3 separate regions of the Homo sapiens genome follow, and regions 2 and 3 are each reported to be linked to region 1. Evidence: microRNA targets listed by miRTarBase, many of them from high-throughput screens and not tested one by one. Region 1 holds a microRNA gene; each other region holds the end of a gene's coding sequence.
What was found. Region 1 holds the annotated microRNA hsa-miR-3194-3p (AGCUCUGCUGCUCACUGGCAGU, at 2,214-2,235, opposite strand). A microRNA usually pairs through its seed, bases 2 to 8, with sites in the 3' UTR of a target mRNA and lowers its output. Matches are read on the target gene's strand: a 7mer-m8 pairs with bases 2 to 8, a 7mer-A1 pairs with bases 2 to 7 and ends in A, and an 8mer does both.

Region 2: miRTarBase lists SELENOS as a target of hsa-miR-3194-3p. The part of its 3' UTR that is shown has no 7-base or 8-base seed match.
Region 3: miRTarBase lists SEPTIN4 as a target of hsa-miR-3194-3p. The part of its 3' UTR that is shown has no 7-base or 8-base seed match.

What each region holds. Positions count from the first base shown.
Region 1 is chr20:51,450,699-51,454,698 of GRCh38, forward strand. MIR3194 (microRNA 3194) reads right to left here and starts at 2,279; the gene lies at 2,207-2,279. It overlaps NFATC2 (nuclear factor of activated T cells 2), which reads right to left. Exons shown (of 11, transcript NM_012340.5): 6 at 3,850-3,990. RefSeq lists an enhancer at 182-683.
Region 2 is chr15:101,269,108-101,273,107 of GRCh38, reverse strand. It overlaps SELENOS (selenoprotein S), which reads left to right. Exons shown (of 6, transcript NM_018445.6): 6 at 252-917. The coding sequence ends at 337. Among named protein-coding and RNA genes, the nearest start is that of SELENOS, 6.4 kb to the left of the region's middle.
Region 3 is chr17:58,516,630-58,520,629 of GRCh38, reverse strand. SEPTIN4 (septin 4) reads left to right here. Exons shown (of 14, transcript NM_001368771.2): 14 at 145-374. The coding sequence ends at 204. SEPTIN4-AS1 (SEPTIN4 antisense RNA 1) reads right to left here and starts at 793. Exons shown (of 5, transcript NR_110810.1): 1 at 653-793. It also overlaps a transcript of MTMR4 not described here. RefSeq lists enhancers at 2,042-2,141, 1,489-2,234.

The sequences.
Region 1 (4,000 bases):
TCTGCCTCCCATGGGTGCCAGCTTAGATGAGACCACACACGGAAAGTGGCAGGCACAGGGCTGCCTGCAGACAGTGGCCAATAATAGGAGCTGTGATTATTACTCTTGTTCTTAACAGCCAACTTTTCACAGCTGAAACAGGCTCTGTGTTTTCCTGCCTTCAAGAGGTAAATATGAAATTTCTTCTGAAACCAAGAGAATAGAAGCTAGAGAATAAATGCCATTCACTCATTCCACAAATGCTTAATTGATGCCCTTGGATAGCTTCAGAATAATTAAACTCCCAGAGTGCTTAAAAGCTGGCTGACTCCTAACTCCGTAAGGAACTTGGTAGGATCCAGCCTCAAACTCTTTCCTGCACAGTTCCATCAGCAACAAAAAGATTTCAGTGTAAATAGAAACCACTCAGTCAACAGAGCCCTGTGTGGCTGGATCAGCCCCTCAAGGCAAAGCAGGCAGAGGCCAGGCCTTCTCCCTGCACCCCACTTTGCAGGACAGCTCGGGGGAGCTGTGCAGGCATTCCACCAAGCAGATGCTGGGCCTGAACTGCTGAGACGCAGAGGGGAAGGCTTAAGGTGACCCTGATTCTGATTTTTCCTCATGCTCTTTTCCTTTCCTTGTCTTTCCTGAAAATTTCTAAGCTGTAGACCAGCAGTTGTTGACCAGTGGCAATATTGCCCCCCAGGGCAAATTTGGCAAGGTCTGGAGACATTTTTGGTTGTCACAACTTGGGCCGCACTACTGGTGTCACGTGGGTGGAGGTCAGGGATGCTGCTGAACATCCTGCAGTGCCCAGGACAGCGCCCCTGCCAAGTCATTATCTGGGCCAAACTGTCAATAATGCTGAGGCTAAAAATGTGGTATAGACCAGGGGTCTTCAATCCCGGACCACAGACCGGTACTAGGCGCACAGCAGTAAGTGGGTGGCGGGCGAGAGAGCAAAGCTTCATCTGTGTTGACAGCCACTCCCCATCACTTGCATTACCGCCTGAGCGCTGCCTCCTGTCAGATGAGCCTGCCATTACATTCTCACAGGAGCATGAACCCTACTGTAAACTGCGCTTGCCAGGGATCTAGGTTGTGCACGCCTTAGGAGAGTCTAATGCCTGATCATCCGTTACTGTCTCCCGTCAACCCCCAGATGGGACTACCTAGTTGCAGGAAAACAAGCTCAGGGCTCCCAGTGATTCTACATGATGGTGAGTTGTATAATTATTTTATTGTATATTACAATGTAATAATCATAAAAATAAGGTACACAATAAATGTAATGTGCTTGAATCATCCTGAAACCATCAGCCCATCTCCCCAACCCTTGAAAAGAACTGTCTTCCATGCAACTGGTCCCTGGTGCCAAAAAGGTTGGGGACTGCTGGTGCAGAGTCTTCTTGCCTAGAGCAGACTTTACCTTCATCATCTCTGATCCCTCAAGCAACGCTACTCCTCAGCTCACTCCTCAACTCACTGCCACCTGGGTACGTGTGATTCAAATCACCAGAGGCCCCCCAATCACTGGACTCTCAGGCTGACCTCGGGCTCTGTGACCTTCATAGCACTGCCTCTGCTGACCCTTCCCAAGTCTCCTTCCCCTGGTCTCCAGGGCACCAGACTCCCCTGGTTCTCCTCCTCCTGCTGTGACAGCTCCTCCTCTGCCACCTTTAAGGGATGTGGCTCTCAGTTCTCTAAGCCTCCCCTTCTCCCACTGGAGGCCATCCTGGGAGGTCGGAGCCAATTCCCAGGACTTCACCTCAGATCTCATTGCTGACAGCTCCCATGACAACATCTGCAGCCAGGATCTGGTTTCTTAGTCTAGACCACGTGGCCACATACCCACCAATCTCTTGCCTTTCCACAGAGGTGAGATCATGGTTCATCCAAGAAGGCCCATGGGTACATGAGACTCAACGCTTCCACTTCCAAAATGAAACCCGTCCTCCCTGCCCAACCTCATCCCCACACAGACCTCCTCTCCTGTGTGCTAAATCTCAGCTGGCCAAGTGCACCACGTGAACAAAACAATCTCGACACTCAACCTCTTCCCCTTCCCCATCCACAGCAGCTCCAGAAAAACAGCAGCAGCCCCTGCCCCTTACCGAGCACTTCCGGTGCTAAGCCCACTTGCTCTAATTCATTCAGACCTTACCTTTGTGGGTAGGCACTGTCACTGTCCCTGCTTTTCAGGGGATAGATGATGGAGAGTTTCCGCAGGTGACACTGCCAGTGAGCAGCAGAGCTGCCCGGGTGGCACGCAGCCCTCCTGGTGGCTGGCCCTGCCACCTGCGTTCTTAATGCCTCTCTACACCACTACGTCCCATCAAACCTCAGTGACATCTGCCTTCTAAACCACTCCCGACCCATCCCTGCATCTCCCTTCCCCACTGCCACAGCCTTACTTAATACCTTTTTTGTTATTTTTCGCAAAGGCGTCATCAAACCCTTTTAAAATAAATTCTGCCTCTTGTTATGCTTCCAACTGTGAGAATGCAGTTGTCACACCCCGGTCACATGTCCAGCCCATCCCAGAAGGATGATTTGTGCGAGACTGGAAGAAGCACTCTTTGCCTAAGACAGTCTGCTTCCCCCTGCCAGAAGTTGTCTTACTAACGTGTAAACTGGTGATGTATCCAATTTGAATGGCAGCCCTCAGAGGAGGTGCCCTTGTACAGTGCACAATCCCTCCAACTGGACAACTCACCTGTTATATTCTCGGATTGTTCTAAGGACAATAAACAAATAGACAAACATCAACACCCCTTTGAAGTAACCTACTGAAATCATGTCTGTTAAGGAAAAGGAAAATTGGTTCTAGTATCCAAAATAAGTGTCCCAAGTTATTTGAGCTAATTTCCTTCTAACAACACATTTGTTTCATTAATTATTGCTTAATCTGATATTTTCCTACTTCAGATCAGCATCTTTTCTACCACATACCCACTGAAAAAGACACCGATAGTACACCAAAGGAAGAATACACGTGGTGAATAAACAAAACATTATGCGTCTCAGAGCAAGGAAATGCAAAGTAGAAAGAAGTACCAATTCCACAATGATTCCTTTTTAATTTAAAAAAATGGCATTTCTGGGATGGGGGTGAAACTATGACTGACATGATGGCAACTTCAATTTGTAGATTTCTGGAAGGTAATTTAGCAATATGTATTTAAAGTCCTCAGAATGACTATCCAAAATTCCACTGCTGGGAATAAACCCTAAATAAACTAAAAAGATATACATATAGATTCATGTACAAGATTAATTAATCCTAGAAGTATAAGCTGATTCACTGCAGAACTACTTATAATAAAAATACAAGTAGCCAATATTAATTGGCTTATGCTGTACTTGGCACTATTATAATTACGTGACATGTATTAGCTCATTTAACCTCCATGACAACTTTATGGGGTAAGAAATTTTAACGGATAGGTAATATGCCTCGGATCACCAAGCAAGCAGATAACAAACCCAGAATTTGAACCCAAGATATCCAGGGCCAGAGTATGCATGCTTTATCACTGTGCTGTTTGGCCTCCCTTCTTGATAATAGCAAAAAGTTTTAAAAATTTCCTTCCTTATGTAAAAAAGTAATTTTAAAAAAAGGATTGAGGGTGGGAGATAATCTCATTTTCTGTCAAAATGACCTAGAAGAGTTAAAATGTAGAATGGCACATTCATGCAATGGCGAATGGTATGGCCATCACAATCCCTGAAGACACGCTGAGTAAAAAGAGCAGGGTATAAAACTGCACGGTGGGATCTACCCCCCAAAACCAAAGTTGTATATAATAAAGAGATGGTCACTTTTGCATGATTCTGGGGGACAGAGAAAGAGCTCAAAAATCCACTGACCTGTGGTCTTCTCAGTAAACACAACTTTGGACTCGGATGTAAAGTTCTGCCCCGTGAGGATCATTTGCTGGCCGCCATAGACCAGGCAGCTGTCTGTGTCTTGTCTTTCAACCATGGGCAGCTCGTGAGCAGATCGCTGGGCTGCAGGCAA
Region 2 (4,000 bases), not on the chromosome of region 1:
ATGTGTTTCGGAGGTTGGGACAAAGAAGCTGAATGACTTTTTTCCCCACCAGACAATCAGTTCAAATGGCAATCACAATATAAAGGTTTTTTTTTTTTTCACATAGCTAAAAGGTTTTTTTAAATGTCCCTTAGGATCTGTATCTTTGCAGTGCTTTGCGTGTCACTCTCATAATTTTATTGTGGATATACAATGTTCCCAGATTTTCAGATTTTTATCAATACTGTTGTGCTGCTTTTCTGTCCTCCCAGGTTATAACCCGTTGTCTGGTGAAGGAGGCGGAGCTTGCTCCTGGAGACCTGGACGCAGAGGCCCGTCATCTGGCGGATGAGGCTAAGAATCTTGTTAGTGTCACTTTTGACATTAGCAAGATGAACCCTTAACCCTCGATTCAATTGCCTTACGCACGCTTTTCACAGTGACTAGCCAAGGGGAGGTGGGGTTGATTTCTGTTCCTAACTACACCTGCATATGTCAGGGCTCCAGTCAGCAAAAGGTATAGATGTTGCCTCTAGGCATGAGGTCATTGGTCACATTCTACTTGGAGACAGTGATTGCATTCATTGATTTCATGGTTAATTGCTAGTTGGTAGGTAAAGGCCTCTAGATGATTAGCAATCTTGATAAAAGAGGCCTAGTAATGTTCTTTTGAGGTTAGAAATCCTTGCTGCTAGGACAGTCTCTGTGACAGGTTGCGTTGAATGATGTCTTCCTTATCAATGGTGAGCCCACCAGTGAGGATTACTGATGTGGACAGTTGATGGGGTTTGTTTCTGTATATTTATTTTTATGTACAGAACTTTGTAAAAACGAAACTATTTAAAAAACAAGAATAACATTTTTAGCATCTTTATTCAAGGAGATTTATGGACTTCAATTTGTCTATCAAACATTAAATAGCTTTTTATTACAACCTCTAACTATTACTTATTTCTCTATTTATTATTACTCACCCAAAATAAGTCTGGCAAGTGGCAGACAGCTGCCGTGATTTTGAAAGTTGACAGACTCCTTGGGGTTCATCCACAAAATTGGGTGCTTGGAGTCGAGTTGCCGAATTACTGGGATAAAGAAACATCGTGCCTCAAGGTTCCTCATAGGCTGACCAGGTTTCTACGTGACCTCTCAGTTATTCCCTTACGCCATGACTCATCTTTTACGCTCTTGTCCAGAGGCACTATCAGCAGTTTTGGATAAAGAGCCAAACAGTAAATATTTTAGACTTTACAGGCCACATATGATCTCTGTCACATAGTCTTAGGTTTTTATATTTTTAAAGGATTGTTTTTAAAAAAGATTCTCTGCTCATGGGCTGGATTTGGGCTGAATGCTGTAGTGTGTGGACCCCGTCTAGATCATCAGAAGGAAAAACATTAACCTTCAGAATAGGGGGTAATTCGCTGCAAAAGTACTATAGAATGGTCTCATACATAAATTAGTCAACATTTGTTATCTCCTGCAGGTAGAATATTCCGTGGTTGCTTCTTGACCAAGGGAAATACAGTCTGGCTGTGAGAGACTTAAAATCTCTTGAGGAGCGCTCTGGAGAATGGCTGAAGGAGAGGAAACAGGAGCCTTGAGCAGTGTAATTACAAACAAATAGGTTGGCATAGTCTTAAGTCTTTGAGTCTAGAGAGATTTGAGTTTTGTTTTGCCTGTGGAGGCAATTGGGGGTTTCAGGTCAAAGAGAGGGTCAGTGGAAACAAGGGTGGGCCTTGTGAGGTGTGGGGAAGCCCTGGGACCCTCACTCCCCTTCCAGTGTGTAACTGGATTGGCTCCCACCAGCCCAGAAGATTTACGACGTGGGAAATGGTATACTTGGATTAAAATATTTCATCCAGATTTGTTTACATCTAGAGAGAACCCCTTGTAGGTTATAAGGAAACTTTTTAACATTCTTCCTTGAATATATTTTCTGTAGCTGAAAATGTTTGTGAAGTGGCTGTCAACTACACATCGCATGAGTAGAGGGGCTCTGGGTCGGGGTTTCATATGCAGCAGAGCAGCTCCCTTGCTGCCGTCCATCAAGAGCCCTCAACACAAGAGTTTGTTATAAATAGAAATAAACGACAAAAAGTAGAGGGGTATGTTTAAGTACACTATTAGATGTGACTGACTACCTTGAAACCTGATTTTTTTCCATGGGGAGAAACAGTGCTTGAATTCTGCATGCCCCCCTTGCATCTAGCACCTTTTGGTAGGGGTGGAAGGAGGGTGTCAGGGAGAATGATTAGGAGATAATGGAGGGGAGGGGAAACTTGCGTTGTGTAATAGCATTTGAAGAGCACTTACCACGTGGCAGGAGTGTCCATTTCTGTTTGATCCCCCTAGAATCCTATGAAACGGGTATGTTACTAACCTTGGTTTTCAGAAACTGAAGCTTAGATGGGCTTAGTAACTGGTCCACAACGCTACTCGCTGTAGTCTACTTCATCCTTGTGTTCATATTAGCCAAAGGCCTTAAGTCATCAAGGTGTGGGAAGCTTCTTGCAGCTAATGAAACAGTTATGTGGCCAGGCACAGTGGCTCACGCCTGTAATCCCACCAGCCAAGATGGGTGGATCACCTGAGGTCAGGAGTTCGAGACCAGCCTGACTAATATGGTAAAACCCTGTCTCTACTAAAAATACAAAAAATTAGCTGGGCATGATGGCATATGCCTGTAATCCCAGCTCCTTGGGAGGCTGAGGCAGGAGAATTGCTTGAACGTGGGAGGTGGAGGTGGAGGTTGTGATGAGCCAAGATCGTGCCATTGCACTCCACCCTGGGCAACAAGAGCAAAACTCCATCTCCAAAAAAAAAAAAAAAAAAAAAGTTATGTGAAGTAATAATACAGTGAAAATCACATTACAGATCTAGGGCATTAAGCATTTCAGAAAGGTGGACTGAGCTTGCCAGGGAAAGCAGGTCTTGGACCTTTCTTGAAAAAATGAGAAATTGGGGGCAGAGGTGCAAATGCCAAAAGCTGAGGCCCCTGGGGAAGAAGGGACGGCCAGAGCCATAAAAACCATGCTTCAAACCTAGGCCATGTGCTCACCTTGTCCACCAGCAGAGGCTGCTGTGGGGCTCGCGGTGTGTCCTGGCAGTTGGCAGGAGTTTGGGACAGACACTGGGAGCTGTGAAGTTTTAGATAATGTGTGACGCACCCTATCCCAATCATGGAGCAACATGAGTAAATTGTGGGGCAGAACACACAAGAGTCTTCAATTGGAATGCTTAGGAGATAGAGTTGTGCCCTTGGCTAAATGTTTGAGGAGAAAAGACTTGAACGACCACGTTTGGATCCCATCACCGCCTGGATCCCATCCTCTCCTCAGGGACTCCACTCTGCGCCCCCTTCAGATAGGTAACATGCCAAGTCTGTCTCTTCTTGGAAAGAGCAAGGCCCCGTCAAATGCGCAGCCCTGGGTGCCTCTGGGTGGGCGTTTCTCACCCTACTCCTTAGCGATGTGGAAGGTGCCCTTACTGAGTTCATCCCATTTCTCGTGCCAGTGGAATTTTGGTCTCGCTGTATTTGACTTGACAGCACATTTCCTACATGCCCCTCCTCGCAGCCCTCCCTTCTGGAACACTCTACACACTGGATCTTAGCCCCCGTGACAGTCCACACCTCTCTCCTTTGCCAGTTGTGCCATGGTCTCTAGTCTTGAAAAAGTGTTCTGTGTTCCCTAATTTCTCTTCCTGCATTTGCTGTTAAATCCATTCTGCTGAAGCTGCTCTTCAGGTCACGTGTGGCAGGGGGTGATGGGTCGCCTCGGTCCTCGCCTGAAGTTAGCATCCTTTGCGGTCCTTGAGCACTCCTGAAGAAACACCTCCCTTGGCTTCCAAAACACCGAGTTTGCCTGGCTTTCTCCTACGTTTCTGGCCACTCCTTGTTCTCTTTTGCTGCTTTTTCTCACCTTCCTGAAACCCCTGGGGTGCCCAGAGCTGTCTTTAGACCTGTTCTCTTGGCCACATTTGACACAGTGTGTCTCCCCCTTTCTCCCCTGACTAAGGGGAA
Region 3 (4,000 bases), not on the chromosome of region 1:
GGTCAATAGGTGGTTCTGTCCAGAGTCTCCATCACACCTCACGGCTACCAAGGTTCTGGCTTAAGGGATTAGAAATTTGGGGCACTTTCCCAATACTAAAGGACTCTCCAAAAGTCCCCATTTTGATGCCTGTGCCTATTCCAGCTGCGGCGGATGCAGGAGATGCTACACAAAATACAAAAACAGATGAAGGAGAACTATTAACTGGCTTTCAGCCCTGGATATTTAAATCTCCTCCTCTTCTTCCTGTCCATGCCGGCCCCTCCCAGCACCAGCTCTGCTCAGGCCCCTTCAGCTACTGCCACTTCGCCTTACATCCCTGCTGACTGCCCAGAGACTCAGAGGAAATAAAGTTTAATAAATCTGTAGGTGGCTTCTGGTGTCCCTGTGTGTATTTTTATGACCTGGAGATCAAGATCCTGGGACCCAGTTTTGAAAGGCTAATGGTAGAAGATGTTGGTTTCTGGCTTTTAGTAGGGAAGGGAGAGTGGGGAAAACTTTCCACTTCCTTTCCCCTTCTAAGTCCCTGCTTAGAATCCAGCCTGGCTTCTCCATCTTGACGATCATATCTATCATGCCTCTGTTATCTGGGGTCTGGGTCTCTCTCCATCTTTCACACATACAGTACCTTTGGTAATAAAAAGATTCCTACCTGTGGTGCATATTTGGGTCCTGGATAGGTCAACAGGTGGTTCTGTCCAGAGTCTCCCATCACACCTCAGGGCTACCAAGGTCCTGGCTTAAGGGATTAGAAATTTGGGGCACTTCTCCTGGCTAAGGAGAAAGTGAAACCCTGTCTCTACTAAAAATACAAAATAGCCGGGCGTGGTGGCGGGCGCCTGTAGTCCCAGCTACTCGGGAGGCTGAGGCAGGAGAATGGCTGAACCCGGGAGGCGGAGCTTGAAGTGAGCTGAGATGGCGCCACTGCACTCCAGCCTGGGTGACAGGGCGAGACTCCGTCTCAAAAAAAAAAAAGAAAAATAAAAAGAAAAAGAAATTTGGGGCACTTCCCCAATATTAAAGGACTGTCCAAAAGTCCCCCCTGCCCTTTTTTTTTTTGAGGCGGAGTCTCGCTCTGTCGCCCAGGCTGGAGTGCAACGGCGCTATCTCGGCTCACTGCAAGCTCCGTAGCTGGGACTACAAGACTCCGTAGCTGGGACTACAGGCGCCCGCCACCACGCCCGACTAATTTTTTGTATTTTTAGTAGAGACGGGGTTTCACCGTGTTAGCCAGGATGACCTCGATCTCCTGACCTTGAGATCCGCCCGCCTCGGCCCCCCAAGGTGCTGGGATTACAGGCATGAGCCACCGCGCCCGGCCCAAAAGGCCCCATTTTGATGCCTGTGCGTATTCCAGCTGCGGCGGACGCAGTTTTGTATTTGATACCTGCCCTTGGGAAAACACAAGGTATTAACTGCGTGCAACCTCCTGACTTTCTGTTTCCCCTGATCTGGGAAAAGGGATAGGCAGGTTAAGCTCTACACTGTAGAAAGCCTGTGATAGAGCTTTGAACAAATGCTGCAGCCATTGTAATCACCAAACACTATAGTAAGTGCTGGGAATGAATAAAAACACAATCACCGTCCTACAGGAGTTCAGTATTTAATTAAAAAATTTACAGCATCTGCTAGATTGCAGGCTGTTCTAGACCCTGGAGTTCAAGTAGTGCAAAGTTCCTGTCTTCCTGGAACTTACCAACAGTACTGGAGTTTCAACGTTCTATAAACAAAGATGGGTGAGGACATTAGCCCCGGGCTAATTAAAGCGCTCAGGCCCGCTCCAGACCTGAGAATATCAGCTGAATCTGAATCAACTGTTCTCCATTTCTGTCGGTTGGTGGTATCGCGGGGCCACGGCGACCTCCAGCGGCCACCCTCCGTCTTGTGGTCTGTTCTGGGTCCCCGGGAAGGAAAGGGAGGGGCGATAAGCCGGGTCCTTGGGAGCGTCCTGGTCTCCCTTCGCTTTACAGACTAGGAGGCCGCAGCTAGCTGGCAGTCTCAGATCCAGGTTTCCCATCTCTGGGATGAGAGGAGAGTTCTTCACTCAGGACTGCCAGCGCAATGCAGGTCGTGAAGAACTGCAGGGTCGTTTATCGATACAAAGTGAGTGTTGGAGGAACCCATCAAGACACAGGAAGGGGGAAATCCTAGCGCCGCCAGTCGGAGATGACCAAGACTGAACCTCAGGCCCAGCCCTCCCTTCTCTCTTAGCCTGCAGGTTTTTCTCCTATTCTGGCGTTGGGACCGGATGACAGCTGCGAAACCAAAACGGGAATGGATAAACTGAGGTGCCACTGGGGACCTGTTTCAGAAGTACCTCCTGGGCGGGGCCATCACCGGAAGTGGCTTTAGGCATGTAACCTACAATGCCCGCCTCTAATTGCGCTACCAGTAGGCGACGAGCCGCCTCCACTTCCGGTCCCCAGAGCAGTGGCCAGCAGCCCCCTCTTTACTGCTCTCCTATTGGCTGCCGCAAGGACGCGCTGTGATTTCCCATTGGTCGCGTCTCCCCTCCGGCGCCGCGCCTCCTTCCTCCAGGTATAGTCTCGTCTTTAGGCATCCGATTGGCTAAAGGCTGGGAGGGCGTTTGCCCGACTCGACCAATGAGTGGGGTCGAGAGTGAGGGCGGTGGCTGCGTGATGGGGGCAGGGCGGGACTTGGCGTGGCCATTGGCCAGGGCGGGTACAGGCTAGAGATATGATTGGTTCAGGAGAGGGGCACTGTGGTGGGGTCGGGACTGCGCGGCCTCAGCAGCTGCGGGAGACGGAAGTGGCAAGAGCGCGGCCTCAGAGGGTCGGGCGGACGCCGCCTGGGTGAGTCACCGTGCCCCCTGCACTGCAAGCCTGGGAACCGCAACGACCGCGTCTTGCCCGGCTCCGCCCTGGCCCCCACCGGCTTTCCTGAGTCCCGCCTTCTGTCATTTGGGGCTCCGCCTCCCAGTCTTTAGGCTCCGCCCCTAGAACCTGGGCACCTGGGCTCCCCTGCCAACCTGGCCCGCCCCCTGGGACCAGATCCCCTAGGTCTGAAAACCCTGGGCCTCCCAGGCCTGATCCTTGTCCCTCCTTCCCTCCCTTCCTTCCCTGGGGCTGCTGCCAGTGGGCGGTGAGGCAGCACCTCTGGCTTGCCTCTTGCCGGTTCCCCCATGAGGGAGAATGGCCTAGGGAAGAGGATACTGTGAACAGGGAGGTGGGCAGTACCACAGATGGAGGCTTTTATCCCCGCAGCCTCCCGCAGGGCTCTGCTGCACTGCCTGAGGAAAGCAGGCATGAAGGAAAGTGTCAGTGAAACCTAGGCCTGGCTCCCTAAGTGAGCCTAGGAGGCCCTATCCTGAAATCCCTGTTACTTGGGCTCATTGGACAGATGCTGACTCCAAGGCCTGGATTGGCCTGATTCTGTCCCTGTTGTGTGGCCTCCTCTCCATAACCTCCACCCCACTTGGTGTCAAATACACTCAGGAGGACCTGTGCAGCCCTGCTGCCCTCTGATCACAGGTTGTGGTCCCCTCCCTCTTGTCCCACTCTGGACTCTGCCCCCAGTAAACAGGTCAGGTGGGTACTACTCCCAGACTCAGAGACTGGCAAAACATTCCTGTGGATTCATGCTCCTTCAACTACTGCCACTTCACCCCAAGAGTCAGGGCCTAAAATGAGCCCCAGTTGGGCAGCCTGTGTCTCTTCATAGTTGGCAGTTCTGCTCCCTGAGAAAGAAGTGTTCTCCCTCTGCGTCTGGAAATCAGGACTCCTGAATTCTGCTGAATAATCTTGGATGACACTCATTCCTGTTTCAGAACTTCGTGGCTGACTTCATGCCCTGCAGGATCACTTGTTGCTTTCTCCTCATGTAGCTCCCATTGCCTCTCTCTGGCATGGTGACTTGTGGAGAGACTGGAGTCTCTGTGAGGGAGAAGAATAAGAGTTGTAGAGAAGGTCAGGGGTAGATGTGTGTCATTTGTTGATTCTATGGTAATGTTAATGGGGTCCTTTACTTTTATGTTCCTCTG